4 linked regions of the Homo sapiens genome follow. The protein of the gene in region 4 interacts with the protein of the main gene of each other region in a biochemical or structural test. Each region holds a gene or a part of one and is shown on either strand. Other genes may lie near its edges.

Evidence for each region.
Region 1: the proteins of MAPK9 (region 4) and MAP3K1 form a complex in vitro, tested with the Homo sapiens proteins (one study listed by BioGRID).
Region 2: of the proteins of MAPK9 (region 4) and CDC25B, one has a biochemical effect on the other in vitro, tested with the Homo sapiens proteins (one study listed by BioGRID).
Region 3: of the proteins of MAPK9 (region 4) and CDC25C, one has a biochemical effect on the other in vitro, tested with the Homo sapiens proteins (one study listed by BioGRID).

Annotation. Positions count from the first base shown.
Region 1 is NC_000005.10:56,818,511-56,825,802, reverse strand, and holds part of MAP3K1 (mitogen-activated protein kinase kinase kinase 1), read right to left. Parts: intron 5,571-7,292; exon of another isoform or gene 5,058-5,570; coding exon of another isoform or gene 4,987-5,057; intron 1-4,986. UniProt on the Homo sapiens protein: Component of a protein kinase signal transduction cascade. Activates the ERK and JNK kinase pathways by phosphorylation of MAP2K1 and MAP2K4. May phosphorylate the MAPK8/JNK1 kinase.
Region 2 is NC_000020.11:3,799,027-3,806,318, reverse strand, and holds the end of CDC25B (M-phase inducer phosphatase 2), read right to left. Parts: intron 6,272-7,292; exon of another isoform or gene 6,032-6,271; coding exon 5,990-6,031; intron 5,858-5,989; coding exon 5,821-5,857; intron 5,577-5,820; coding exon 5,454-5,576; intron 5,349-5,453; coding exon 5,226-5,348; intron 5,066-5,225; coding exon 4,931-5,065; intron 4,598-4,930; coding exon 4,517-4,597; intron 4,396-4,516; coding exon 4,219-4,395; intron 4,039-4,218; coding exon 3,943-4,038; intron 3,590-3,942; exon of another isoform or gene 3,511-3,589; intron 3,410-3,510; coding exon 3,347-3,409; intron 3,212-3,346; coding exon 3,113-3,211; intron 2,916-3,112; coding exon 2,782-2,915; intron 1,751-2,781; coding exon 1,639-1,750; intron 1,499-1,638; coding exon 1,358-1,498; 3' UTR 204-1,357; downstream 1-203. UniProt on the Homo sapiens protein: Tyrosine protein phosphatase which functions as a dosage-dependent inducer of mitotic progression. Directly dephosphorylates CDK1 and stimulates its kinase activity.
Region 3 is NC_000005.10:138,286,789-138,294,080, reverse strand, and holds part of CDC25C (M-phase inducer phosphatase 3), read left to right. Parts: intron 1-1,964; coding exon 1,965-2,111; intron 2,112-3,340; coding exon 3,341-3,442; intron 3,443-4,517; coding exon 4,518-4,580; intron 4,581-6,813; coding exon 6,814-6,912; intron 6,913-7,292. UniProt on the Homo sapiens protein: Functions as a dosage-dependent inducer in mitotic control. Tyrosine protein phosphatase required for progression of the cell cycle. When phosphorylated, highly effective in activating G2 cells into prophase.
Region 4 is NC_000005.10:180,288,804-180,296,856, reverse strand, and holds the start of MAPK9 (mitogen-activated protein kinase 9), read left to right. Parts: upstream 1-4,773; 5' UTR 4,774-5,009; intron 5,010-5,581; exon of another isoform or gene 5,582-5,819; intron 5,820-8,053. UniProt on the Homo sapiens protein: Serine/threonine-protein kinase involved in various processes such as cell proliferation, differentiation, migration, transformation and programmed cell death.

The sequences.
Region 1 (7,292 bases), about 120 Mb from region 4:
TGGGTTGACAGTGGCCTGACCCTGGGTTAGCAGTCATGGCAGTGGAGGAAGTTGGATGGATTCTCAGGCTACTAGGAGAGTGGCAATAACAAGAACTGGTGACTGATTGGAAGCTGAAGGTGTGAAAGCCAGAAGAGTAAGAGCACAGCAATTAAAGAGACAATGGCAGTGTTTACCCTGATGGGCACCCTAAACCACATGGAGATCTGAATGCAAGGATGAAGAGGCTGAGCAGGGCAGAGATGCAGCCTGGACATGTGACTGCCACAGTGCCTGGCAGAGGGGTCCCTCCTGGAGGAACTATCCTGGAGAAAGTTGTATGCAGGATTCTGTCACAAAAGCCAAGATGTCTTAGGCACCACAGTATCAATGAGTCAGCAAAGATACGGCTGATAATCTCTTAACAAATCCTTTTCTTCCTGGTTAAAGACTAGCTTTCCTTCAATCTTTGTACAAAACTTGAAATTTGGTTATTTAAGAATCTAGACCTGGCCGGGCATGGTGGCTCACACCTGTAATCTCAGCACTTTGGGAAGCTGAGGCGGGTGGATTACCTGAGGTCAGGAGTTCAAGACCAGCCTGGCCAACATGGTGAAACCCTGTCTCTACTAAAAATACAAAAATTTAAAAAGTTGGAAGTGGTGGCAGGCGCCTGTAATCCCAGCTACTCAAGAGGCTGAGGCAGGAGAATTGCCTGAACCTGGGAGGCGGAGGTTGTGGTGAACCAAGATTGTGCCATTGCACTCCAGCCTGGGCAACAAGAGCGAAACTCCATCTCAACAACAACAAAAAAAGAAGAATCTAGACCCTTGGAGCAAGAAAAATATCTTTAAGACTCCGTCTCAAAAAAAAAAATAAAAATTTTTTTTAAAAAACCGGAAAAGATCAGTATATTAGTGGTAGTGGTGATTATTATGCATTTTAAAGAAACTGCAAGGTATAAAATGACTCAGGTCAACAATAACAAAAAAGATTTCTCCACACAGATAATAGATAAGACATTCGGTAAGCAGCATCCATTTTTATGTAATTCTAAAGTACATATTTATTCAGTATCATCAAGGCTACAGAAATACATCTTACAGAACAGTTAGAGGTTTACCACTTCAAAGATCAAGACACTTTCTATAACTATCTTGGATAGTAATTTTCCTTAATCTATATTACAAGCTTTCCAACTTCACTTCACTGAGTATATTTTTAAATGGCAGAGGCTGCCCTAGATGGAACTAATTGTACCAATGCTAGGTGGCCCCCGACTGCAATGTTTTGAGTCCTATTCTCCCTCTCTCCTCTCACTGTCAGGTGTGCCAACACTGCTGCCTTTGGGGAACCTGCCTCTTGCAGGACTCACACCGCCACCCCTTCTAACTGGCTGCTTCTAATTGCTGCATGTTAGGAACACCACATGAACAACACTGCATGAACAACATCTGAAATAAGTATCAATCCTGAGCAAATGCCCTGGGAACTCTACTAAGTGTAAAATCAAAGTGCTTCAAAGCACATATTTTGTTACAGGTCCTTTGGCTGCTTAGAGTATTTTTTCTTACTTCTTAGTGCTAACCCATGTTCTAGATAAGAGAGGCTGCTGGGTTTACTTACCAACAGTAAACTTTGAAATGTTTTGTTACATGGGTTCTTGGCTTCTGCAATCTCATGGAGTACTTGCCTAACAAATATTTTCTTCAATGGAAATGTGAACTTTTATTTATCCCAAGTTGAATTATGATCAAATTAATGAATTTTGGATGAAGTAGGGTTATCAGATAAGAATTCTAAAAATGATATCTTAAGTTTAGATGACATTCTGAGAACTTTAAAAATAAGAATAATTATATTAATGCATGACACCTTTATGTGTATATTTATTCACAGATGTATGTGTGAATATATAAATGCATATATATACACACACGCACTCTTAACTCCCTATTAAGTACAGAATAATTATATACACATAGCAGACTCTTCTTACCTATAAAGTTGTCATGCAGTATAGCTATTTGCTCTCTACTACATTAAGCTGTCCTATTTCACTCGAGCCACCAGGCACGTCTACAAGTCCAGGTACCTCTGAATGAGTCTATCACAAATCTACAGTGTTGAAACACCATAGTCTAGACTTTTGCCATTTAACACCTTTTCAGCTATGTCCTAAACTACGTCTGACTAAACAGGAAAAACAGTGGATCCACTAATTTGAACATGCCATGCCATTATCCCTCTCATTCATTTATTCAATAAATATTTATGCAGTGTCTACCCTATGCCAGGCATCCTGCTAGGTGCTAGGGGGAAGGCAGTCATTCATCAAATGAGGTAACAAATGTAAAAGCACAACACTGACAGTAGGGACACCCTGCTACAAAGCCAGTCTGGGTGGATGAGGGAAAGCTTCCCTGAGGAAGTGTCAATGAGTTAAGATTTTAACAACGAGGAGCTGACTTTATGGAAAAACAGTGTTCCTGGCAGAGGGAGCATGTGAGGGCCCTATAGAAGAAGGCAGTGAGTGAGTCTGAGGAAATGAAAGCACGCAACCCTGCCACGGAACAAGGGCAAGTGTGAGCTGAGATGGGCCTGGAGAAGCAGACAGGGGCCCAACCGGGCAGGGACTCGGTCAGGCATGTTAAAGATTTCCTGGTCTTTATCCAAATGGAAGCCATCTGAACATCTTAAAATTAAATTACATTTACTTTTCTGGAGGGAGGAAGTTATGATCAGATTTACATTTGGAAATGATCACTCTGGCCACCTAATACAGATTGGAACGGACAGCAAAGGAGAAAGGACACAGGGATCAGGCAAGGAGGCCACTAAGTTAGTGGAAATGAGAGACAATGGGCACCTGGCTAGGGGTGTGATAACAGGTCAAACTGCCAGCACCTAAGGATGGTCTGAATCTGACGAGGTGAGAGGAGGAGGTGTCAAGGGTGACTCCTGGGTTCTGGTTCTGCCATTTAATGAGCAGGGAACATGTTAGGAGAAGGTTTAGGGAAGATCTTTAATTTGGTTTTAGACATCTGACTGCGCAGAAGTCATGTAGCCAGGTGTAGGTCTGGACTTTAGGAGAGATCATGGTTAGGACAATAAACTCTGCAATCATTTGTAAATGGTCCATAACTGATCTAAGGGCATTAATAAGACTGGGGTGGGGATCGACAAGACAGAATGAGAGAAGGCCTAGGACCACCCTGGGAATCTTCCAGTATCAATGTTCAAGAGAATGAAGATGGGCGCCACGGAAGAAGTGTCATGGTTAAGTAGAAAATCAGGAGGGGCTTACCAATTAACGCAAATAATTAGACACTTTCAAATACCAGGAATTCAGTTTTCTCAATATTTGACAGTTTGAGCATGGCTCCAATTATTTTGTAACTACACTAATTATTAGAAGGCTCACATTACATAAAATTGGTCAATATTATCAATGACTGCTTGCTAAATGCCAACTACTGCTATTAAACATCAAGCAATGGTCTGGCCGCAGTGGCTCATTTCTGTAATCCCAGCACTTTGGGAGGCCAAGGTGGGTGGATCACTTGAGGTCAGGAGTTCAAGACCAGCCTGGCCAACATGGTGAAACCCTGTCTCTACAAAAAAATACAAAAATTAACTGGGCATAGTGGGGCATGCCTGTAATCCCAGCAAGCTACTCGGGAGGCTAGGCAGGAGAATTGCTTGAACCTAGGAGGCAGAGGCTGCAGTGAGCAAAGATTGCGCCACTGCACTCCAGCCTGGGCAACAGAGCAAGACTCCGTCTCAAAAATAAATAAATAAATACCAAACGATATACAAAAACTCCTAAAAAAAGACAGTTCTTGCCTTCAAAACTCGTCTTAAGCTAGATCATGATTAAAATCTCACTACAGTAAGTTAATCTTCAGATATACTAATTTAACCACTTTTGGAAAATTAATTCATGTTAACATTTCTGGGTACCTAATATTCATGGGTGCCAGACACTAGTCTAGATGCTGGGAGATGGTGCAAAGAATCAGATAAAGTTCCTGGTCTGTTAACAACTGATGTTTAGTATTCAGAATACCATAAGACCAGTTTGAAGATTATGTGTTAACATATAACTTAAATTATTGTTTAGGCAATGAAGAAAAGTAAAGCCAGACACAGTGGCTTGCACCCATAGTTCCAGCTATGTGGAAAGATCACCTGAGCCCAGGAGTTCGATTCCAGCCTGGGCAACATAGTGAGAACCCATTTCTAATTTAAAAATAAAAAAAGAAAAGTAATGATAACATCTGTCAAGAGCAAAGCTTCCACCTACACCCCAGTACTGACCCTGTTCTCACTCCATGTCTATCCATCATTATGCTTACAAGTGATGAACTTAGTTAACGTACTAACTACAGTACTGTGTAGGCTGTCCCATGTGGCTCCAAGCACTTTCTCCAGGCTTCAAGAGGTCTGGTGGCTTAGTAATTCCCAGGTGACAGATGTGTACTTGCAGAATTATACACTTGGTGAGTTTTAACAATTCCCCTTAGTATGCTACAACATCTCCACATCTCGATCAAATTAACATCTGCATCAAACCAGCCTGGTATTCCAAAGGACTCAATCACTAACAATACAGAACTCCCTTCCATACCAAACATAACTCAATCACCAATGACATGCCATAGAGTAAATAAAGACAAGGCTATCTTCTTGATCATCTTATGCCCTAAAGAATATTTTATATTTCTCCATGTTGTTTTCGTAACTAGTAGAGTTGCTGTTACTAATAATAAAGACAGAATTTCAGAACTAGCAGTAGCAGATGTTGAATTTCTTGCTCCCCGTATCTCCTTTTTAATTTTCCCTTGGAAGAAAAAAAAACATGCCTGAACATGCAGTGTTGTATATATTCTTATCAGAAAATAGGCAGAAATAGTTTGAAACTAATATGTTGTATCCCCTCTGTATCCCCATCTCTCTTATAGCACTTAACACGGTATTGTGAAACATGTTCATACTACAACCTACCGACAGAAACAGCTTGTGCACTCATGATCTTTTTCTCCACCACTCAAGACCACCACCTTGCAGAAGTTCATAAATGTTGAATGGATGAAATCTAAAACAATAACAAAGGGGTAGGGTCTAGCAATAGTAAAAGTTTCTCTTCCTGTGTGATTACCATGAATGAACCATATTAATTTCAGCTTATCTCCTTTCACTTATGATTTAATACAGCACAAATCAATAAATCTAAGAAACATTCAACACTAATGACTAACCCTCTTTGGCTGACATGATAGGGTGATCCAAATACAGTTTACTTGTATTACATATACAAGGCCAGGTTACAGAAACATACCTATTATATACATTAACAGGCAAACTTAGCACAGGGTAGAGACCTAGCTCATGGTCTATTAGAATGCCTGCAAAACAAATTTCTCCTTAAAAATAATCAATTAATTTGATTATTAATTTGAAAAAAGAAAATGGAAGAAGCAGAGTAGTGGAAAGAAATGGACTGTGGAGTCAGTCTGACTTGGGATTGAATCCTAGCTGTCTTCTAGTTGTGTAATCATGAGGTTTTACCATCTCAGATGAGTTTGCACCTACAGAAAACAGAAATTACACTATCTTAGGGGGCTGCAGTGATGATCAAATGAGATTATATATAAACATATATATAATACATATAATAGATATCATACACACACACAGAAGGCAAAAGAGTTGATTATGTAAAAGGTATCTAGGCATATCTATATGCTCAATGAGTATGTTTTAAGCCACAGATAAAATCCTAATATATTTTTGCAAACTGAAAAGAGTATCTGACTAATCTCATGCTTTGCAATGAACCATTTACTAATTCCGGCCCTGATTATTTCTTTCATGATTAAACATGTTCTTAAATAATTTCTTAAAGACAACTTTGGGTTACTCCTAATCTTACACATTTCCTCACATTAATAGTCTACCATTTACATGTTTAAGTTGCTTTAGCTTTTAACTTAGGATATAGAAAGAGGCAAGGACTAAGGAAAACAACCAAGTCTATACTTGATATATTTGATAGAAGCAAAGAATTCCAAGATTAGAGGTGTAATATACACGCAGTTCCTAAGCAGCCTCTAGAGACTACTACTTTTCCATGACACATTTTCCCATCGCCTTCTGTGTAACAGACAGCCCTCAACCCAAGAAGATGACTGGAGTACAAAATGCAAAAGAGGTGCTTTCTACCTGAGAGCATTTCTGAATGCCCCATATTTTTCCTCATGGTAATCCATTCCCCATTAACTACCTTGCCACCCCCTCATTTCTTCCTTTGGGATGCACACAGCCAGTGTCAAGGACTGATTAGCCGACTCAGCCTAGGCAAGCTGTAGCTGGTTTTTTTTTTGCTCTTGTTGAAAGCAAAAAAACACTCCTTTCTTCCCACATTTTGAAATCTGCAAGTTGACAAGTCAGTGGCCATTTCTAAAATATGCAACATATTATGCTCGAGGTGCTATGGAAGTTGTAAATGAATATCAATGAACAGGGCTACTTCCTGTTTTTCGTATCTAACAAAATGGAGTTTTAGTGCATTGGAAATCGTATATTAAGGAATGTTGGTTAACCAGTCACTCTTGCCAAAATCAGATATGAAAAGAAAATAAAAGTTGGCAACAATTCTAGCTCTTATATTTCTCTTCCAGAATTATATTAAGGTTCATCTTTGAAGAATGCATTAATTTTCTTATCTGATTTAAAATGAAACTGACACCATTCTTAACTAAAAACTTACAAATTCACGGAAGACTAACTTATGTGACTACCTTTATTTTTATAAAGTCACCCACTTAATATTTTAAGAGTAATTTTTAGGTAATAATGCTCTTATACCTCCTCTTTAGTAAAAGGTCACTAAATCATATTTTTAGCCTAATAGCTTTAAAAAGGAAGTGAAATCTGAGGGCTATATGAGGATATAAAAGCAGCCTGTGAAATACCTTTAGTTTTAAACAAAAACTAACATTAACAAGTACAGCATATCTTGTTCTTTCACGGGGCCAGCAAATTGATAGTTTGGTTTTTTAAGTTACAAAAATAGGATGGGGTAATTATATCTACCAAACTCACAATAGGCTGTTCAATGGAGAGTAACACTGTAATTTTTCTTCAAAGACAGTAAATAGGAAGAAAAAGCCCCTAAATTCTGTAATATAAGGAAAAATTCCAAACCCTTGGGCGCCACTTACAGGCACTTTCACTGATTTCAGCTATCACCCTGAAAAAGAGGGACAAACTTAAAATCTTCTATTTAAATACGAGTATTATTTATTTAT
Region 2 (7,292 bases), on a different chromosome or scaffold from region 4:
GTGAGGGGAAGGAGGGGTTGAATCCAAAGTCCTGGCAGGAGTGTCACCCAAGAGATGGAAGACATTGGGAGAAGAAGGGACAAGAGCATGAGGGCACCTCTCCAGCAACTCTTCCTGCCTTTGCTGACCCTGTCTCCTACCCCAATCCCGCCATTGGCGGGCTTCTGGGGTCTTGCCCAGGGCCCCACAGGACACAATGCTGGTTTCTCAACTTGCTCAGTGCTTTATTGAACCAAGGCCCTAACAGATGACTCAGCAGGGCCTTCAAGCACAGCCCTGCCCCCATCTTGAGATTCAGAATCCAGAGGGTGCTCAGTCCTTGGTTTAGCTGCTTCTGTGACATTTCCTCTTGAATAGCTCCAAACCCTAAGTGTAAATATTTTTGTCCACACAAATAGGCACACATATATTCCTGCTGCAGGCTGTCATGCTCAACAAAACGCTCCCACCTGGTTTGGGTATGCAAGGCACTGCGCATCCACGGCCATCCACGGCCATCCACCCATCCATCCAACCTTCCATCCATCCGCAACAAGACAGCAGCAAGTTCTGAGCAGTCAGGCCCCAGGGTTCACAGCAGTAGGGGCTGGGCTTCCAGCAGGCTCATGATTCAGGCCTTAACCCTTGCCCTGGGAGCCCCCAAGGATAATAACATCCCTTTCTGGGGCAACAAAACTGGGACCGAGTGGGTAACTGATATTTGACAGGGGAACCTAAACAGTCTACGGAAGTGTCCTGAGATGGGCGTAAAGTCAAACAGACCAAGCACACAGGTAACACTGAAATAGGAAAGAGTAAGAGCTTCTGTTCAGGCTGGAGGTGCTCGTATGGTGGGACAGGAAAGGGGAAAAGAGAAAGGGGCAACATGGCAGACATACCACGGTTCCTACAGAGATTAGGGGCAGCCCTGGCCCGGGAAGTACACAGGGCAGAGAGCTGACTCTCAGGCCAGGAAGGAGTTTAGCTCTGACCCATCCTCAGGGACCACGGCTCTCCCCCAGCCTCAGCTGACACACACACAAAGGAGCGTTTCAGGACACAGGAAGATGAAGGGTTAACCCTAACAAGGAAACAAGAAGCTCCTGGAGGACACAAAATACTGCCTTTAAGCTGGTATTAACCCAACTTAACTAACTCAACAGACTGGGCTCTTCCAGGGGTGGGGGGCACCAGGATATGGAAAATGATGGGATGACACAGGGGAATCTGGGCTGGGGCAGACAGGCAGGACACCCACACCATCTTTCCCATGGACAGCACCTGAGGCCTCCAGCAGGCCCTCAGCCCGGCAGGCCCATAGGGCAGCTGGCTTCAGGCCTCGAAAGGCAAGGGAGGTAGCAGGACTGGCGCAGGCCCCTCACTGGTCCTGCAGCCGGCTACAGAGCTCCCGCCGGCTCCGCTCCCCAGCCCAGCTGCGAGTCTTGAGGCGGAAGGTCTTTAGCTCATCCTTGAAGGCCTCGTGGTTCATGGGCCGGTAGTCCTGGGGTTCACAGAAGTTCTAGGGCAGGACAGGAGGGGTCAATGCAGTGGAATGGGTAAGTTTGGCAGGGACCCAACCCTCCCACCCCCCATCCCATGGCTCCAGCCTGGCCAAGCCAACCCTCACACAGAGACTGTGGCCTTCCCCACCCACGCTACCGGGTGCTGAGGGAAGAACTCCTTGTAGCCGCCTTTCAGGATATACATCTCAGGGTAGTAGAGGCTGGGGTAGTCGTTGACAGCACGGTCTCGTTCCCTGATGAAACGGCACCTGGGGCGTCATGGGCAGGGTGTGGTCAGAGTGGGGCATGCAGTGGCTTGTACATCATGGGACCTATCCCCCACGTCCCCTCCTTTGAGGGCCTTGGGGAGCCACAGAAAGCTTTAGAGCACAGGAATGTAACCACAAGAACACTTTTAGGTCACTCTGGCTACAGAAGAGGGTGGGGAGGCGGAAGGAAGGAGGTAAAATCAAGGGGATGAACTCTCCGTTTCTAGAAGGCAGTTGCACAATCTTTGTTAGAGATATCTGTGCCTGGACCAGGAAAGGAGAAGCAGGAGAGGAGACAAGTGGGCCAAATTCAAGGGATCCATTCGGGCCACTCCTGGACAAGACCTGGTGAGGATCAGTGGTGGGGAGAAGGGAGGAGGAGGACCCAAGACTGAAGCCAGTGCCCAGGCCCGGTGCCCAGGTGGAGGTGGGTGCCATATGCTGGGATGCCTGGAGAAGTTGGGAGGGCCGCAGGGATGCGACTCTGTAAGGGGCGTCTGGGTGCAGATTCCCACCACATGGGTGAGGCCAGGCTGGGGAGCCACTAGCAGTCATATGGACCAGTGGCAACCCAGGAGGAGGCAGGGGTGGGAGGACAGATGGCCAGGCAGAACAGGAATAGCGACAGAAGGAGCTCAGCCAGGGAGGCCCAGGTGCTGTGGATGCCAATGGAAGAGGTTCTAATGGAGACCTAACAGCACTGAACATGGGGAGGGTCCGTGTACTGGGGACTGACACGCGGCCCTTAGATTTCGAGAAAAGACACCGCTAGAGACTTGGAACTAAATTTTCTGAGGGTGGCAGTAATGGATGTGGGGTGGACATGAGGCTTGATAGGCAGGACAGTGAGGGAGATGGGAGGCGGGTACCATGCACAGTGAAGTGGGGCTGAGGTCAGCTCTAGGCCATCAGATGGGACAGAGGAGGACCTGGACTTGCACCCCTGGCCATCTCAATGGTGCCAGCACCTGTGAGCCTGGGCAGGGAAGGCCAGGGCAGACACTAGCTGGCTGGGCGGAGCTGGGACTCACATGCGGGGCCCACGCTCAGATGAGAATTCACAGTGGAAAATGAGGATGACTCTCTTGTCCAGGCTACAGGGCGCGATGGGGCTCTTCAGTAGGAAGCTCTCGGCGTCGCGTTCCAGGGGCAAGTTCACCGCAGTCTGTCAGAGGAGCCAGAGGTCAGGCACAGCCCCGGGTCCAGGAGTCAGGGCCCTCCCCGTGCAGTCGCTGTCCTTCTCTTAGTAGGAACCCTCCCCATGAGAGGGGGCACCCGTCCTCCACCCATTCACCCTCTTGGCAAAGCAAGGACCTAAACCAGGTGGGATCTTCAGGGCCTCTCCCCATTGCCCCATCTTACCTTGATGTGCCCGCCTTCATATTCATAGGGGTATCTGCAGTCTACAATCACAAACTTATCCACGATGTTGCTGAACTTGCCCGTCAATAGGGCCACCATCTGTAGGAGGTCATGGGGGTTGGTTCCGGCAGGTCAGGCTGGCAGCTGGCAGGTGGCCCTAGCCTGTCCCCAGGGAAGGTCAACAATGGAGCTACAGTCCCAAATCTGCCTAGAAAATGACGCAACGCTGTTTACCGTTTCTGGTGAGATGTACTTGAGGTCTTGGTGCTTTCCGTCTACTGTCTGTAGGAGGAAGGCCTGAAGGGAACGGAAGGGATGAGGGAGAGGGGAGAAAGTTAAATTGGTAAGACCAGGAGCCTCAAAGAATGAAGTTTCATTCCCAAAATCAGAGGCCACACCTGCTTTGGCCTTCAAATTCAGTTCTGGTTCCCATGGCAACTGAGAGGCACCTCTTGGGTCTGACACCCAGGGAACAACCTTCCAAGGGGAAAGAGAAATGAAAAAGGGAAGTGGAAGAGATGAACTCCACACTCTGCTCCCTACCCTCTGCCAAGCCCGAAGGTGAGGCATGAGGGGGTTCCAAGCTAGGTATGAGCTTGGAAATAAGACGGAGACTCAACAGATGCCTGGACTGACTTGAGGTGGAGTCAGGAGACAAGGAGGGCCAGAGGGAGGAGTCTATGTGAGAACAAAGGATGAAAAGATACAAAGGACAAAGAAAAGGGGGGCTCCGGGGAGAAAGGGAGGAACCCAAGCAGCCCCTGGGCTAGAGGACCCCTAGTCAGTAAGAGGTCAAGCCCCCAAGGTACCCCCTTCGCTGCTGCAGGTACCTTAGAGTAATCTCCAATCAGCTCTCGGTGGTCACTGTCCAGGAGGTTCTCGATCTCATCGTGACACAGTGATTTTGAGCGGAGGACGCGGGCTTTCTGGAAAGTGAGTCAGATGGAGGCCAGGGTCAGGGTGGGGCTGCCCCCCAGTGCTCTGGCTGGCTGGTACCCCCTTTCTCTGCCATGCCCAGGCTGCCACCTGCCCTCTGCCACAAACTTAGCCAAGGGGGTGGCTGCCCAGGTGCATGCCAAAGTGAACCCCAGGAGGAAGGCACTCACAGGTTCCTCAGCCTCCTGCTGCTCCTCAGGAGGGGTCACGCTCCGCCTCCGCTTATTCTGCACGGGCGTGTCCCTGTCCTGGGGCCGCTCCAGCCTCTTGAGGATGGGCCGGATCACGCTGCAGGGCATGGACGGAGAGCGGAAGAGCCGCTGGCACTTGCTGTACATGACGAGGTCCTGGCAGGGACAGCAGGTTAGGGATCAGGGTGCCCAGGCCCCGTCCCATCCCTCAAATCCACTGGAGAGTAGGATGGACCCCATGCCTCCAAATTCGGAGGGGGCCACCCCAGAGGCCCACCTTTTCCTCTTCCTTTTCCAAGGTCTTGACCAGTGGGGCACTAATGAGACTCTCCATGCCTGGGGGAACTGCATCATCATCCTGAGGCCAGATTAGCAAGGACAGGGTCACAACCCACAGGCATAGGCCAAACCCCTCCAGTCCCGGAATCCTCCAGCACAGCCTTCCCTGTTTCCCTGGCAAACTCCAGGTTGGGGTGAGAAGCTCCCCTACCTCCCAAACCGCCCTCCACTGTGGCACCAGCCACCTGTTCTTCTCTCATTGGCCAGAGGTTAGGCTGTGACTCAGTTACCTCAGATTCTTCTTCTGACACTGGAATGACATCATGGTCCTGCCACAAGGGCTCAGAGCTCTCTTCTTTTGGGCGAACCCAGGGATAGGAAGGTAGGGGCCTGGTGGGACAAGGCTGTTTACCTTTAAGTCACTCTCTAGGATGTCCACAAATCCATCATCTTCCTCAGTATCCCCCTCTGCAGGGGTCAGAGAGAAGCGACCTAGGGCCAGGGGGCTGAGCTCCTCCACTTCCATCTTCCGGTCAGGACTGAGACACTGTCCACATGACAGACAGACACAGACTTAGAGGTGGAGATAGTTCCCGCCCCCATCCTCCTGAGGAAAAGTTCCCAGTGCCTGGGGGTTCAGGGCCACCCTCCTCTTCTCCGAGGCTGCCTCCCCAGGCCCCTCCCAGGGATCCGCTCTCTGGATGTACCATCAGGTCGGGGGCCGAGCTGGGTCTCTGGGCAAAGGCTTCCCTGCGGCTGGCCCACTCTGCCAGAGCATGGGTGGAGCTGGGATGTGTGGGCTTCCATGGCATCTTGAAGACAAATCCATCCTGCAGCCAAGATGGGAGAGGAGGGTCCTCACATGCCAGGGAACCACCCCAGCATGCCCCCTCCTCTTCCCGGAGAGCTCCCACCCCGGCCTTCCAGAAGCGCACATTCTCCTTGTCTTCCCCAGAGCTGCTGGCAGCTCCACTGCCCGCCTCGCTCTTCCTCCGGCCGTCGGGCGCCTGGGAGTTGGTGATGTTCCGAAGCACGGGGCTGTGGCCCAGCAGCCTCACCTAGAGAGCCAGGCAGGGCGGCAGGCAGAGGAATGAAGGCTGCATTCCTCCGGCACGAGCCCAGGCCCTACCTTCTCCACCTCTCCTCCAGCTCCTCCCACTTACCTACCTACCTCTGAAACCCCATCTCCTACAGCCTGCCTGGGGACACCCAGCTGGGAGGTGATCCCTGAATGCATCCTGCTCATCTACCCCATGCCTGGCTAGCATGCCTAAGCCTCAGTCAGGCCTCGAAGACACTCACCGGCATAGACTGGAAGCGTCTGATGGCAAACTGCTCGCTACAGGAGGAAATGGGGACAGGTGAGAGCTGGGAGAGGCAGGGCAGGGACCAAGAGCATGCAGCATGCCCTTCTGGAGCCCTGTCCTAAGGGAAAGCTTGTGGTAGATGGAAGAGGCCCAGGAACACTTACTTTCGAATGATCCGGCTGGCTGCCTGGATGGCCTGTTCAAACCTAGGACAGAGAAGGGTCCCATGCAACCCATGCTCCCTCCGCACCCATCACCCACCCCAGCACCAGGCCCCCAGTCCAGGGGGGAGTAAGGGCAAAGACAAGGGCCAAGGCTCAAGGCAGTGGAAGGGGTGGGGTGGGAAGAACGCCCACCATCAGGGGGCCCAGGTATTGGGGAGGGGGAAGATAAGAGGCAGCTTGGAATTTTAAAGGCTGCCCTGAATGAAAGAAAGCCCAGAGAATGGCAGTGATAGAGACAGCTGGGGCAGGTCAGGGTCAGGGAGGCGTCACCAAGGCAACAGTCTCGCCAGCCTGCACCAGGCCTTCCACCTGTATGCAAATCACCTCAGCGGGGCCATATGGCTGCCAGGAAAGGCATCCATCCATCCTATGATAGGCCAGGGGCACCCAGCAATGTGGGTGTCTCCAGGGCCTGGACAACAGCAAGGCTAGGCTTCCTCTCCCCTGTGAGGAGCTGGCCTGGCTCCCGGTCCTCTGAGGACTGGGGCCTGCTTTAGGGCTCCCCCAGTCAGCTCCAGTCTGATACAGTAGACCCCCAGTGACAAACGTGCAGGCTCACATCCTCTCCTCCCTCCTATGGAATTTTCCAGGACCAGCCTCTGTCCCACCCCCTCCTCCTGCCTTAGAAGAGGCCAGCAGGCAAGGAATTCCAACACATGTTCCCTCTGAGGCCCCGCCCCCTCAGCCGTGTTACAGGAGACCACCTGCCACGCGGAGCTTTTGTGCATCTACGCGCGCGCGCGCACACACACACACACACACACACACACACACACACACACACAGCTTCTGAGAAACTCTGTATAACTGTCAGAGCAGGTGCAGGGCAGGGAACCACTCAGGGATAAAGTATGAGGGGGATGCCCCCCCGGGGGGCTGCTGTGCCCAGCCAACCTGGCATCAGGGATGACCAATTTCATTGGCTTGCACATGGGCCTTGGGGGTAGGGCAAGATTGCTCTGTGCTGCCACCAAAACCAACCTGCAGTCCCCCAACCCCACCCAATCCTCTCCCCATTTCCTGTTTGTGAACCAATCTGCAGCCCAACCCAGTCTGATCAAAGGCAATGGGAGGTAAGACAAGTCACTATCCTAAACCCAAAGCCACAGTCCCCAGCACAGGCCAGAGATGCCCAGCTGTCCCTACTAATGGCTGGCAGCTGCCCCGCTGCTTGGGCTTTAACAACTGGATGGGAACAGCTGTGCTCTGGAAGACACCACCCATGCCCACAGCCAAGGGGATG
Region 3 (7,292 bases), about 42 Mb from region 4:
GCACCCCAGCCTGGGCGACAGAGTGAGACTCTGTCTCAAAAAAAAAAAAAAAAAAATCCAAAGAAAACGGAGACAATTTTTGTGACCTTGAGTTGGCAAAAATTTATTAGATACAATGCTTAAAAATGGATACAGACTGGGCGTGGTGGCTCATGCCTGTAAACCCAGCACTTTGGTAGGCCAAGGCGGATGGATCACTTAAGCCCGGGAGTTCGAGACCAGCCTGGACAACATGGTAAAACCCTCTCTCTATAAAAAATACAGAAATTGGCTGGGCATGGTGATGCGCATCTGTAGTCCCAGTTACTCAGGAGGCTGAGTTGGGAGGATCGCTTGAGCCTGAGAGGCAGAGGTTGCAGTGAGCTAAGATTGTGCCACTGCACTCCAACCAGAGTGACAGCGAGACCCTATCTCAAAAAAAAAAAAAAAAAGATAAGTTTCAATTAGCTAATTAATTCCAAACTCTTAGTAATATGGCTCTTAGCATAATTATTATGGTGTGTTCTAGAGAAGCCCCTTTTGAAATCCTCATCTAGCTTTCCCCTGCCTTCTCAGGGGAAAATTGAAGTTATATGAAGTCCTGTCTGTCATGGAGACCAGGCACCCTACTCCTCAGTGCCTCACCATATCTCCTTTCCTACCCTACCTTTGGTTGATCCATTCATGCATCACTGGCTTCGTGGCCTTGACTGTATCTCTTGGCTTCTTCCTTTTGGGCTTTGGCTTCTGCTACTGCCTAATTATTTCTCCATCTTCCAAGTTAGGCAACCAAGAGAGGGAACCTGATTGGCCTAGATTATTTTTGCTTATTCTAGACCACTAAATAGATGTGTTCAACCAGCAATATGGTCCAGTCATCAGTGTCTGGGGGGTAGGGTGGATGGGGACATAGGGCGATGTTTGGAAGGAGTCTAAGGGTACGTATAATGTGGACGGTACCATCAGCTGGTATCACGAACAAGAGGTAGGACCATGTGTGTGATAAACAACATAATATCCATAGCTGTCATAAAGCAAAATGTTGTTATTCTTATTTCGTTCTTCCAGAAACCATTGATCATCAAGCTGCCTTCCAGTTATGGCTCTCTTATTGTATAGCCCCCCTCCTAAATCAGTCCATAACAGGTAGTGCGATAAGTGTTTAGAGAAGGAGCTTTTGCCTGTTCTCTAGGTGAGAGGTAGAGATCTCAAAGTATGTGGCAACAGAGGATAGAATTGTGGATTAGTTGGAAGGTGTTATCAGAGGTCATTTGATAGACCCTCAACTCTGAATATAGCACCCAAACCATGCCTTTCAAATAAACAACAGTCTATCCTCTTATACTTTAATCTGTTCCTGTGTAAGCAATTCTCAAGGCTAGTTCTTCATGACGTTTGAGCCACTTTTTTTTCCCTGATGGGTTTCATAGTATCCATCCTATAATGGTCAGCATGCTATTTGATTTTAGTGTGTCCTTTTTTCTTGCATGATGCTTCTTTTGCTATTTTTCTTCTTGGCTTTTCATCTTTAGGTTTGTTGAGGTCCTTAAATCCTGATTGTCAATGTCCTAGGATCCCAGAGACAAAATGGACTTATGTTTTTTTTTTTTTTTTTTTTTTTGGTCACATAACTGGAGGGACTGAGCTTGTGTTTGCTTTCTGTTAGAAGAACTGGTGCATCTAAGACAGTCAGCTGCAGAATTTGGTTTGGCTAGTTAAGACGTCCATGGAGATGGAATATCATGCAGTCCAGGTAGAAAGATATTAACGGGCCTATGAAGACAGGTTGCCTACCCAAGGCTTCTCAAACTTGAGAAATCACCTGGGCATCTTGTTAAAATGCAGATTTTAATTCAGTAGGTTTGGGGTGTGGCCTAACATCTGGAAACCTGCATTTCAAAGAAGCTCCCAGGAGATGTTGTTGCTGCAGGTCTGCAGACACACTTGGAGGAGTAAGAACTAGGGGGTTTAATATTCCCAAACAGGTGAGCAGAAGTGGCCTATATCGCTCCCCGTCGATGCCAGAGAACTTGAACAGGCCAAGACTGAAGCAGGTGGAAAAATTCAAGGACAACACAATACCAGATAAAGTTAAAAAAAAGTATTTTTCTGGCCAAGGAAAGCTCAGGAAGGTAAGAACTTTTTAAGATGAAAATCTTGTTCATCTTCTATCTCATGTCTTTGCTTTTCTGGTATGAGGATTGTTTTATTATGCCTTTTTTGTCTTCTTCCTCTTTACTTTTACTTTTTCCTCTTTGTTCTTTCCATCTTTCTGTCTTTTCTACATCTGTATCCACGTGAAATATATATATATATATAAAATATTTATATAACATAGATACATAAAGTATATCTATATTGTACTTTTAGAAATGTTGTCATAGGCCGGGTGCAGTGGCTCACGCCTATAATCCTAGCACTTTGGGAGGCCGAGGCGGGCGGATTGCCTGAGCTCAGGAGTTCAAGACCAGACTGGGCAACACGGTGAAACCCCGTCTCTACTAAAATACAAGAAATCAGCTGGGCGTGGCAGCATGTGCCTGTAGTCCCGGCTACTCAGGAGGCTGAGGCAGGAGAATCGCTTGAACCCGGGAGGTGGAGGTTGCAGTGAGCCAAGATTGTGCCACTGCACTCCAGCCTGGGCAACAGAGCAAGACTCCGTCTCAAAAAAAAAAAAAAAAAGAGAAATGTTGTCATCATACCGTCTTCCCAACCCTTTTTCTTAAGATCTGAAAGAATACAAGGGAACTTTGGTATGGATATTTTACTGCTGTTTTACATGCAGTCTGACAGAAACAACATCATATAGCAGGTTGGTTTTGTGGAAAGCAACTTCTGAAAAACTTAGCCTTTGTCCTTTACCCTCCCCAACTTTAAAAAAATTAAATAGATGGGAGGATCACTTAAGGTCAGAAGTTCAAGACCAGCCTGGTCAATATAGCATGACCCCATCTCTAATAAAAAAAAATAAAATAAAAAATTAAAATTCTAAAATCTTTGGATATTTTATAAAATCAACTTATTTATTTATTTATTTATTTTCCCCTGAGATGGGGTCTCACTCTGTCACCCAGGCTGGATTGCAGTGGCATGGTCTTGACTCACTGCAGCCTCAATATTTATTTATTATTAAAAATAATAAATAAACAAATGGAGTCTCACTCTGTCTCCCAGACTGGAGTGCAGTGGTGCAATCGTAGCTCACTATAGCCTTGGCCTCCTGGGCTCAAGTGATCTCCCTACCTCAGCCTCCCATGTAGCTAGGATTACAGATGTGCGCCACCATGGCCCACTCCATCCACTGGTTTTTAAACCTTTAACATGAGGATTGGGTGTGGGGTGGGAATCTTGTCATCTTCAGGGCTTATGTTTAAAGAAGACAGTCTCTCTGTGTGACATTACTATCACTCAGATGCTGGAGGAAGATTCTAACCAGGGGCACCTGATTGGTGATTTTTCCAAGGTGAGTTTGGCTACACCCATCCTGTATTTCAGTGAGTCATTTTGGATCTGAATCTTCTCTGTTTGCCGAGAATGCCTGGTGTAAATATGCATCCTCACCAAGTACTCTTTGGTAACCTGACAGTGCTCTAGTGGTAGATCCAGGCCCTAAGCCTTTCCAGAGAGAAAGTATTTCTTATTCTTCTGGGAAGATCCAGAACAGGGGAAAGTATGAGACTTTTTACCTTTTTTCTGTTTAAAAACATATTTTAAAATTATGTAAATAATACTTGGTTGTTACAGAAAAAGTAGAAAATGAAGAAATTTATCCCAAACTTTATTAACCAGGGTAATATTGCTTAGTATATACTCTTTTTTTCCCCCCTACTGTCTGTGTAATTGCAGAAGGTACATATTCTTACAGATTTTTTTCTGTGTTTTCACAAACACATATACAAATACAGTTTTTGCTTTTCTACAAAAACAGTTTATATTGTTTTGTTATCTGTTGTTTTTCCTCTCATTTAATAATTATATCAGGGGCATCTTTTTTCATATTAATAAGCAGTTATGCTTCATTCTTTCTTTTTTTAAGATTCAAGGTCTTGATCTGTTGCCCAGGCTGGAGTACATTGGCATGATCATAGCTCACTTCAGCCTCGAGCTCCTGGCCTCAAGAAATCCTCTCTCTCCTTGGCTTCCCAAAGCACTGAGGTTACAGGCATGAGCCACCATGCCCAGCCCATTTCATTTTAATAGCTCCATATTATTTCTTTTTTTTTTTTTTTTGGCTGCTCATAATTTCTTCATAAATCCCTTCTTGTAAGATATTTGGTTTTACAATTTTTTCTTATGAATGATACCAAGATGAATATATTTGTAGAGAAATCTAAAACTTCGTACACATCCTTGATTTGTTCTTTAGGATCAGTTCTTAGAAATGGACTTGATGTATATGCACTTTATAGAGACACTGATTTTTTTGAAGGCCTCTGGGGTTTTAAGGGTCACTTGGAAAGAAGGACAAAATAAGGGTCTTTGATCTCAAACTTGGGTGTGGAATACTTGCTGTTATTTCAGCTCTTGTGTATTTCTAGGTATGTGCGCTGCCAACCGTGTCAGGGAAACACCAAGATCTGAAGTATGTCAACCCAGAAACAGTAAGCAGATTTCTGGAGATGGTAACTGGTTACATAAGCTACCATCTGGTCTCTTCTGTCCCTAAAATGCCCATTTCCATTTGTATTTCTTTCACTGTGTTCACTCACACAGGCTCCTTATTCAACTGAAGTTATATTGAAGGACTCATTTTTTTCCCCATTCTTCTCTCTCCTTCGTTTTTAGTTAAACAAATGATACATAGTTTTTGTAAAAGGGAAAAAGGGAGGGGTCAGGCATGGTGGCTCACGCCTGAAATCCTAGCATTTTGGGAGGCTGAGGCAGGCAGATCTCAGGCACTTGAGGCAGGGAATTCGAGACCACCCTGGCCAACATGGCGAAACCCCATCTCTAATAAAAATACAAAAAAATTAACCAGGCGTGGTAATGTGTGCCTATAATCCCAGCTACTTGGGAGGCTGAAGCACAAGAATTGCTTGAACCCCAGTTGGGGAGGTTGCAGTGAGCAGAGATCGTGCCACTGTACTCCAGCCTGGGCGACACAGCGAGACTGTCTCAAAAAATAATAATTACTTAAGAAAAAAGGGAGAAAGAAAGGAAAATAAAAAATCACACACAAGAAATGGTCTCAATTAAGGTCTCAATTAGGGTGACCATGCACCCTCGTTTACATTTTACAATCCCATTTTCATCTATTAGTGAGGGTAATTATTAATAGTGTTTGCTTTCATTCTCAAAAGTCTCCCAGTTTGTACAAAAATTATTTGGTCACCATACCCACAATCTCATCACCAGAGATAACCACTAGTCATATTTTCCTATGGCCTTCCAGATTTTATTTTATTTTTAGACATGGAGTTTCGCTCTTGTTGCCCAGGCTGGAGTGCAATGGCACAATCTCGGCTTGCTGCAACCTCTGCCTCCCGGAGGTCATTCTCCTGCCTCAGCCTCCCAAGTAGCTGGGATTACAGGTGCCAGCCATCACACCGACTAATTTTTGTATTTTTAGTAGAGACGGGGTTTTACTATGTTGGTCAGGCTGGTTTCAAACTCCTGTCCTCTGGTGATCCACCCTCCTCAGCCTCCCAAAGTGCTGGGATTACAGGTGTGAGCCACTGCGCCCAGCCCCAGATTTTATTCTAGCATATGTTTTATAGAAATGGGATCATGGGCCTAGCACAGCTCACACCTGTAATCCCAGCACTTTGAGAGGCCAAGGCAGGCGAATCACCTGAGGTTGGGAGTTCGAGACGAGTCTGACCAACATGGAGAAACCCCGTCTCTACTAAAAATATAAAATTAGCTGGGTGTGGTAGCGCATGCCTGTAATCCCAGCTACTCGGGAGGCTGAGGCAGGAGAATTGCTTGAACCCGGGAGGCAGAGGTTGCGGTGAGCCAAGATGGCACCATTGTACTCCAGCCTGGGCAACAAGGGCGAAATTCCATCTCAAAAAACAAAAAAAAAGGATCATGATGAACGTATAGTATTGCAATTTGCTTAGTGAGACATTATAGACATCTTTCTATATCAATAAGGTATCTATATTATCATTTTAATGGCTATATAATGCCGCTCTATTCTACTGACATGTACAATTTATTTTACCAAACCCCTATTATTGAATATTGAAGTTATTTCTAATATATTGATAATATAAAACAATGCTGAGATGAATATAATTGTGCCTACATCTTTGTGTACTTTTCCTGTTTACTTAAGATGTTAGAAATTGCTGAGTCAAAGTGTGATTACATTTATTTGTATATGTATTTACAAAGTTCCCTTCAGAAAGGCTGAACCAATTTGCACTCCTACAAGTAGCTTCAGTTTCTTCCTTCCTTTAGGTATCAACCTTTCCCTTCCATATCCTTTCCTGAAAGACTTACTTTCTTCCTTTTTGATGGTGGGTAGGGAACCATTTTGCATTTCTTCCTGCAATTTCAAGCTCTCTAGCTGCTGCCTCTGCCACTGCAGAAGTCCTTGGGCATCTCCTGAGTCCAGCCATGCCTATCCCCAGATGGGTAGCCTGAATATGGTTTTCCTTGGTATCTTGTCAGTGCCAGCTATTTTGGTTCTCTAAAAGGGCCACTTCCTGTTTCATTCTCTTTTGTGGAGTGGGGCTGAATCATTGCCACATATCAAATATGGGGTGACTTTGGAGGCTGGACATACAGTGGACAGAACAGGAGTATGCTTGTAAGGAACTGTGTCATTGACCCTTCTCTCCCTCAGAGTGGCAGTGAGCAGAATATTCAGTCATTGTTTCTGTCCAGGTGGCTGCCTTACTGTCGGGGAAGTTCCAGGGTCTGATTGAGAAGTTTTATGTCATTGATTGTCGCTATCCATATGAGTATCTGGGAGGACACATCCAGGTGAGACGACATTGTGGCCATTAGTAGGGGAGGGCTGGAGATAACTCTTTATTGAGAAGAGTCTGTGGACAAAGGGGTCTATGAACTCTAGAGTCAGGACAAAGATTACATATTTGAAGCACCTCAAGGCTGAGGTCCTCATTGTTTTAATTCTGTATACCTTAAGCAGGTTACTTTCCCTTTCCCTCCTAGATCTATCTCCCTCTTTTCTGTAGGAGCCAAGGGGTCCTACCTAGAAATAAAAACATTAATCCAAGGACTGAAGCACTTTGCAAACACTTACTATTCATGAACATTCCTCGCAGTGATCTCTATACTTCCAGTGGTTCAGGTCTATAAACATTTATTGACCATCTACAAGCTCTATGCCAGGCGTTCAG
Region 4 (8,053 bases):
GGTAAGTACTTCCGTGTGTGTGTGGGGGGGGGGGTAAGTACTTCCGTGTGTGTACTTTCTTACGTGTGTGTTGTACTTCCTTGTGTGTGTGTGTGTGTGTGTGTGTGTGTTGTAAGTACTTCCTTACCTGCACAACAATATTCTCCAGGCTCGTCTTGTCCATCCCCTGTCCCAGCCCTAGAATCAACCATTTCTCCAGGGATCCCTGGTTCCTTTTATGGCGAATGACATTAGAGAACAAGATCTGGGCTCTGGGTGTGTCAGCCACTGCTGAGATGTCATTGCTTCTAGGCCATCTCAGCTGACAGAGCAAGGCCATGTTGCATACACCTGTGCTGCATAATTTTTAAATGGCTGGTTCTTGTTTGAAGGATGCAATATTTTTTCATTCTCTCTGAAGCTAGCAGTAGTTTTATTTTTATTTTTTGAATTTTCCTTCTCCACAGAGTCTGTTTCTTTCAAGATGCAGTTTTTTGTCTTACTTTTCTTAGCCATATGACATGGAGCTGTCTGTTCAGATTCAAGGGGGGCTGACTGGAAGGTCTAAGGCATGGTAGGGCTGGTTGATGCAGGATTCACTGCTGGGAAATCTGGTGGGGGTGGGGGTGTCATAATGTTCATACCTCAGGTCTTCCCTTCAGGGCTGGTCAGACTTCTGGAGAACAGCTTGCTGGCTCCCTGCCTGAGGACAGTCCCAGCTGCTGGTGCTCTGGGGGATTCCCGGAGGAGGAGGGCTAAGGGCCACTGGGTTCAGCATTCAGTTATACAGCCCCCAAATAACCCTGTTTCCATACAGTGCCACACCCTCAGCTGCGCCCCAGCTCAGATGCCCTCATTCTAATCATCACCATGGAAGAAACTTCCAGACTTCTGCCTTTCCCAATTCTGCCCTTCCCTGCCATGTCCTCACATGAGCCTGTCTGCCCAGCATGGCTGACTAGTTCCAGAATGGAAGCCCTGTCTGGGGGACCATCAGAGTCCATTGTTGTGGGTTTTCAAACTCCATTTGGGCCTGCAGTGGCCTCCATGGCCCTAGAGTTTCCAGACCAGCTCTGCCCCTACCTCCCCTGGGTATGATGTTACAGGCACCTCCCAGTAAACGTCCCCATTGGTTTAAGTGCAGTTTAGTTTTCTACAACACACAGCTGGGACAGCCCCGACTTACACCCTCTAGCACATCTCTGGGTCCTTGTAGGGGAGAAGGGAAGATGTGGGTTAGTGCAATGGGGGGAGGGCAGGCAAAGTGTTGAGGGGACAGAGGCAGTCAGCATAAGGACCTACACCATCCCTGCTGCATGGGCCGCACCCAGCTCTTCCTGCTTCTGTCCTTCTCCATGCCACTTCCTACAGAACCAAGGCAGACAGAAGTGAATCCCTTGCCCAGAGGAGCACAGCTGACAAGAGTCGGATTGGAATCCAGGCCAGTCAAGGGTGGGGGATATCAGGATCACAGAAACCCGTTGGCACTGTGGCTGCATACACAGCTGGCCTCCGGACAGGTCCCCAATGCCCCAGGCACCCCTAGCTCCTCCACCCCGCTGTGCTCTTGTCTTAGTCTGTTTCTTATTCTGTTGCTTATAACAGAATACCTGAAACTGGGTAATTTACTTTAAAAAAGAATTTATTTGTTACAGCCCTGGGGGCTGAGAAGTCCAAGGTTGAGGGGCTGCACCTGGTGAGGGCCTTCTTGCTGCTGGGGACTCTGCAGAGTCCTGAGGGTGGCGCAGGTGTCACATGGCCAGGGGGCGGAGCATATTCACAGGCCAGCTCAGGTCTTCCTTCCTCTTCTAATGAAGTCACCAGTCCCACTCCGGTGATAACCCTTTAATCCATGAATCCATCGACAGGTTAATCCCAACCACGCTTAGAGGCCCCACCTCTCAGTACTGCCACATTGGAGATTAAGTTTGAACATGAGTTTCATTGAGGATAAACATCCAAAACAGCTCATCCCAAATCTAAATGTTTCTTAAATCAACTAATCAATTAAAAAAAGAAAACCTCTCTGGGCTGAACAAGGCGTATCAGTGAGCTAAAGCCAGCCTACATGCCTGGCAGTGCCAATCTACCTCAAGGTCCTCAGAACTCTCCAGTCCCCTCACCTTTCCCTAAGACCAGGTGACTTGTGGCTCCCTGAACACAGCAAGCAGGTCCTCACATCTGAGCATGTGGGCCTGAGCGCCCTTTCTGCCTAAGTCACAGGCCCAACACATCCTGCTCGGCAGCCTCAGCAACAACTTCCTCCTGCCCAGAAGGCCTTCCTCAATTGCTTCTCCCCACCATAGGCCGGATCAGGTGAGACGTGCTCACGTGTCACACCTGGTTCACGTATGTCGTGGCAGGATCTTTTCACTTGGAGGGTTCAACCAGGATTCTTGGTGCTGTTCCAAGGCCCCCCTCCCCACCCTGTCACCTCAGCTTTGTGTCCATAAATGTTCACTGTATTTCATAAACCAGAAAAAAAGCAGTGTCTCTGCAATAAAAAGAACTCTTACAGAAAACTTAGTGTGAGATATGTATAGCTGTGTACATATGTACACTGATTTTTGGTTACTCACTTGACATGATGTGAGTGCTATGAAGTTAGGCCTGGAGTGCTGGGAACTGGTGTCCCCTCTGTTTTTTTGTTTTTATTTTTTTGAGATGCAGTTTTTGCTCTGTTGCCCAGGCTGGAGTGCAGTGGAGCAATCTCGGCTCACTGCAACCTCTGCCTCGTGGATTCAAGTTATTCTCCTGCCTTGGTTTCCTGAATAGCTGGAATTACAAGCACCCATCACCACGCCCAGCTAATGTTTGTATTTCTAATAGAGATGACGTTTCACCATGTTGGCCAGGCTGGTCTCGAACTCCTGGCCTCAGGTGATCCACTCACCTCGGCGTCCCAAAGTACTGGGATTACAGGTGTGAGCCACCGCACCGCCTTCCTAATGAGAAGCACCCATCAGTGCTCCTTGGTGGAACCTCAGATCTGACAGCTAGGCTTTTACTCTTTTCCCATAATCCTCGATCCTGACAATTTCTGGTTTCCTGTTCTCTCTCATGCACTTGAGGCAGGTGGCAGGTGAGTCTGAGGTAGCGACAGGTGTGGGCCCTCCTCAATGCAGGCCACACTGTGACGTAGAATTTCAAGCAGCGATGAGCCATGCTCAAATTTAGAAAACTCCCTCTGGTGGCCAAGGGGGACACCATGCTGGATCCGTTCCTCTACCCCACCCCTCCTCTGAGGCTCTGGTGCCTCCAAGCGGCCTGGCCCAGACCTCAGTGCCCTTGGAACCTGGGTCACAGGCTAGCTGCCCTCCCCAAATTCTGCAACCACCCTTCACGCCACCCAGCCCCTTACCCTCCCCATCTGCAGAGTCCTGTTCCTTCTCCCCACTCTGGCCCTGGCCACTCTGTGGATCCTGGTATTGTGTTACTGCTGTTCTACACCACACTCACCATTTGTCAACCATTGTTCCCACTCTTCTAGTCCCCAAAGGCCGGCTCTCCACGGTTTTCCCCATGTGCCCAGCCTCAGTGCCTCTCTTCCTGCTTCACTTTTCAACGTAGATCTGGCAACATCCCAAGCCCCGGCCTCTCCCATCCTGTACGACCCCCAGGCCGCTGGTACCTGATCCAGCCTCAAAAGCAGCTCAGAGTCAACGGGTCCCAGTCCCTAGGGGGCTCTGAGCAAGAGACTCCTCGCCCCGCCCCCCACTCCTCTCAGAGGCTTGACTGAGCACCTCCCTTTTTTTTTTTTTTTTTTTTTTTTTTTTTTTTTTTTTTTTTGAGAGAGTCTCACTCTGTCACCCAGGCTGGAGTGCAATGGCGCAATCCCGGCTCACTGCAACCTCCGCCTCCCAGGTTTAAGTGATTCTCCTGCCTCAGCCTCCCGAGTAGCTGGGATTACAGGCGCCCGCCACCACGCCCAGCTCATTGCTTCGTATTTTTAATAGAGACGGGGTTTCACCAGGTTAGCCAGGCTGGTCTCGAACTCCTCACCTCAGGTAGTCCACCCGCCACGACCTCCCAAAGTTCTAGGATTACAGGCGTGAGCCACCGCGCCCTGCCGCACCTCCTAATTTTTAGATGTTGTCAACTAAGTGATCCCGCCACCAAGCGCAGTCTCCTCCTGCGTCACCGACCCACCGGGTCACCTGTCTACACACCGCCATCTCTTCGCACCCCCTCCCCCTCTTCGACCCGGCTTCTGGCCTCACCCACACCCCCATAGACCCGTTCCTCCGGCGCCGCAGCGAGCAACCGAGTGCGAGGCCCGCCCCGCCTACCGGGCCCTAGCACGCCGGGCTCCCGGACGCCAGGCCGGCCTCCCCCCGCGATCGCCCCGGGCTCTCCCCGAAACGGGCGGGCTCCCGTGCCGCTCCAGTCGCCTCACCGCCACAAGCCTGCACCTGCAGCCCGAGGCCCGGCTCCCCGCGGACCCCGCGGTGTGAGCCCCGCGCGCCTCCAGCCCGGTTCCCGGTCCTCCGGGCCACCCTCTCCACCGAGCTGCGCCCCCCTCGCAGGGAGAGCGGGCTCAGCCGGTGGGCCGCGCAATGCCTGCGTCTCCAGCTCACCGCGTGCACTGCGCGCACCCGAGCGCCATGGCCACTCGGCCCGCGCCACTGAAAGGCCCGGGGGCGAAGAACCCGCGGAACCCCGGCCCAGGACCTCGGGCGCCCGACCCGGCCCCCGACCCCGCCCGCGCCACCCTCCATCGGCCCGCCCCCCAGGCGCCATTGGCCGCGCCTGCTCCGCTCTCCGCGCGCTGATTGGTCGGCGCGAGGGTCTGTCAGACCGGGCGCCGCGGCGGCGGCAGCGGCGGAGAAGGGAGCGGGACCGGAAGGGTCGCAGCGCCCCGGCGCCCCTCACACCCACTGCGGCGGCGGCGGCGGCGGCGGCGGCGGGGCGGAGCGGAGCGGGGCGGGCCGGCGGCGGAGCCGGGGCCGCGGAGCCAGGAGTGACTAGCACGCAGCGCCGCCAGTCCGCCCGCCCGCCCTCTCCCCGTGGCGCGGCGGCGGGGAGGCGAGGTGAGCCCGGCGGGCGGGCTAGGCCTGGCGGCGGCTGCTCGGGCCGGGCCCGCGGGGAGGGGCGGTGAGGGAACCGCGCGGCCGGGGGCTTCGGGGCGGGCCGGGGGCTGCGGGGCCCTGGCAGCCGCAGCCGTCGCCCCTGTGCTGGGGGATGCCGCAGGCGCCCCCTTCCGCCCGGCTGTCAGCAGCCCCGGGCTGCGGGCCTGCTCACCGGCCTGGCCCGGCCGACCTGCCCGTGGGGTCTGCGGGCGCCATCCCTCCCGGAGGTGGGGCAGACAGCTGCACTCCTGCGCCGGGTGCCCAGGGGCCCGGGGTCGCGTCCCCGCGACCTTGGCCAAGGCACTGACCCTCGCTCTGCCGCGGTTTTGCCTTCGGGAAGGTGGGGAAATGTCTCTTCTGGACAGGGTTGTTGTCAGGCTGTGTGAATGTATGCAGACGCCTGGGCAGGACCCCGGTGTGCATCTGTGGAAGACTGGGCAGGGTGCTGGCCCGTGCTGGTGTGAGTGGTGTAGGAACCCCCTCCCCACCCGCCCAGCCTCCCGCCTCCCCGCGCACTCCTCTCTTGCCTTGTCATTGCACACTCGGTGTCCAGCAGTGCCAGAGGGGACCCAGCCCGAATCCCTTACCACCGCGCCCCTCCCCCAGAAGACTGCTGCCCCGTCCCACTCATCTCGCCCGCCTTGAACATGCCAGCCCGCATTTGCCCCAGGACCTTTGCATTTGCTGTTTCCCCGTCTTTGGAGTTGTCTCCGTGATCTTGGCACAAGTAGCTCTTTCTGCTCCTTCCTCTGGTCAGATGTCTCGTTTTGGGTGAGGCCCTCCTCGACCACCCTCTTTCTTCCCTTAGTCATGCTATTTCATTATTTAAAAAATTTCCTTCCTAGCTCTCATCTGGTTTGAAACTATTCTATTTATTTGCCTGCTTATTTTCTGTCTCCCCGACTAGGATGTAACTTTGTGAAAACAGGTAGCTGTCTGATTTGTCCACTGCTTTATCCCCAGTGCTTAGAAAGCACACAGGAAGTATTCAGTAGTATCAGCTCAATGAATGAATGAATGATCAAAGAAATGGCCCAGCCTGCCTGTTGTCTCTGCTTTATCTGTTCATTTAGTGACTTCTGATTAGCGTGTGAAACTTGTAAGCAGATGGAAGCTTGTTCTATTTTGTGAAACATTTTGGTGTCCTTGACCCCTTTAATTGCTAACTGTTGGAACAAGCTGTGATATAAAATCTCACATTTTTATAATAGTTTAGCTGTAGCTTTCTTCCACACATACAAGAGACATTTACTGAATTCTGCATTATCTAGGTCATGCTTTCTGCTAGACCCTACGGACACAAGGCAGATAGCAACGGGGTCCCTTTCCCGAGAGAGCCCAGGAGCCCAGTAGAGAAGGCAGGCATGCAGACACTTAGTTCCAGGACTGTACAACCCTTGCTATAGGGGAGGGGCTATGCCATGGAAATGTGGAGGAGGTGACAGGTGGTGCTGGGGGGCCTTGAGGGTGATAAGAAATTTGCTAGGCAGGGAGAGGCACAGAGGTGTGAAGGAGCAGGGCCAAGGAAGGACCGTAGGCCACTGTGGAGTTGAGAATCAGTCTGGAGGGCCAGGTGTAAGGACACAGAGTCGTGGGGACCCTAAAGAACAGGAACCTTACCCAGCAGTTTTCTAGAAGAAGGTGGAATTTGGCTGGGTGCCATGGCTCACGCCAGTAATTTCAAGACACTTTGGGAGGCTGATGTGGGAGGATCACTTCAGGCCAGGAGTTCAAGACCAGCCTGGGCAACGTAGCGAGATCTGTCTCTACAAAAAATTTTAAGAAATTAGCTAGGTGTGGTGGCATCCACCTGTAGTCCTAGCTGCTTGGGAGGCTGAGGTGGAAGGATCCCATGAGCCCAGGATTTGGAGCCTGCAGTGAGCTATGATCACACCACTGTGCTCCAGCCTGGGTGACAGAGCAAGACCCTGTCTCTAAAAAGGAAGGCAGCACTCCACATTTGTTCTGATTTTTAAATGTTGGCAATAGCTAATTAAATTTTTTTTTAATGCTGTGAGCCAAGCCAAATACAGATTCATTCAGCTTGGTTGCAGGATCGTCATCCTCCAGGACTGGCTGTGTGGGAGGGAGGAGCTGTGAGGAGAGCAGGAAAGGTAGCCTAAGGCCAGGGGAGCCAGGCCCTGTTTGCCCAGGTGCCAGCCCAGATACTCATTTGATTGTAACTGGAGCCCTGTGGAAACGGAAGCTCAGGAGTCTAAGTAGTCTGTTTCTTAGCAAGCAGCTGGTGAGTGGAGTTCGAACCCAGATCACTTCCCAGATAAGGATTCTTTCCTGGGTCCCTCAGCTCTGAGTATTCTCTTTTGGCTTTTAACTTGTTCTGGAAGAATGACCACCAATCTATTTAATGTTTTCCTCCATTTAACTTTTTTTTTTCTTCAAAAGGATCCTGCAGAGTTAAAAACAATACTATTTTTGCATAGACTTCTCTTTTGACAGCTTTGATTTTCCTGGCAATTTAATTTTCAGGGTGCCAGGACTTTAATTTGTTCACAGATTAAAATCTGTTTATTTGGTCCCGTAAATAAACAACAGAGGGGATACTTGAATGTGTCTAAGATAAAATATTCTTAATTTTCTGGATAAAGAAAAGGACCAGACAAACCAGTTAATAGCGAGTAAACCAGTTGTTTTCATGAGGCATAAGATAAAACAGAGACCAGATTTTTTTTCTTCTTGAGACTATTGATTTGCCAATAGGGCAACTATTTTTGGTCTACATACATACAGTAGTTACACCTCACACTTGGTTAGGAAGGTGCCATTTTTACATAATTTTCCTTCAGAATAATTAATTCCTGATACTTTGTACTTGATTGTATGAACCAGTTTCAACATCATTCTTTTTATTTTAACTTTTATTATGGGAACTTTCAAACATATACAAAATAAACAGAATAGTGTCCTGCTTTAACAGTTATTAACTCCTGACCAATCTTGTTTCATCTCTAATGGTATCCACTTGCACCCTTACCACCCATAATTAT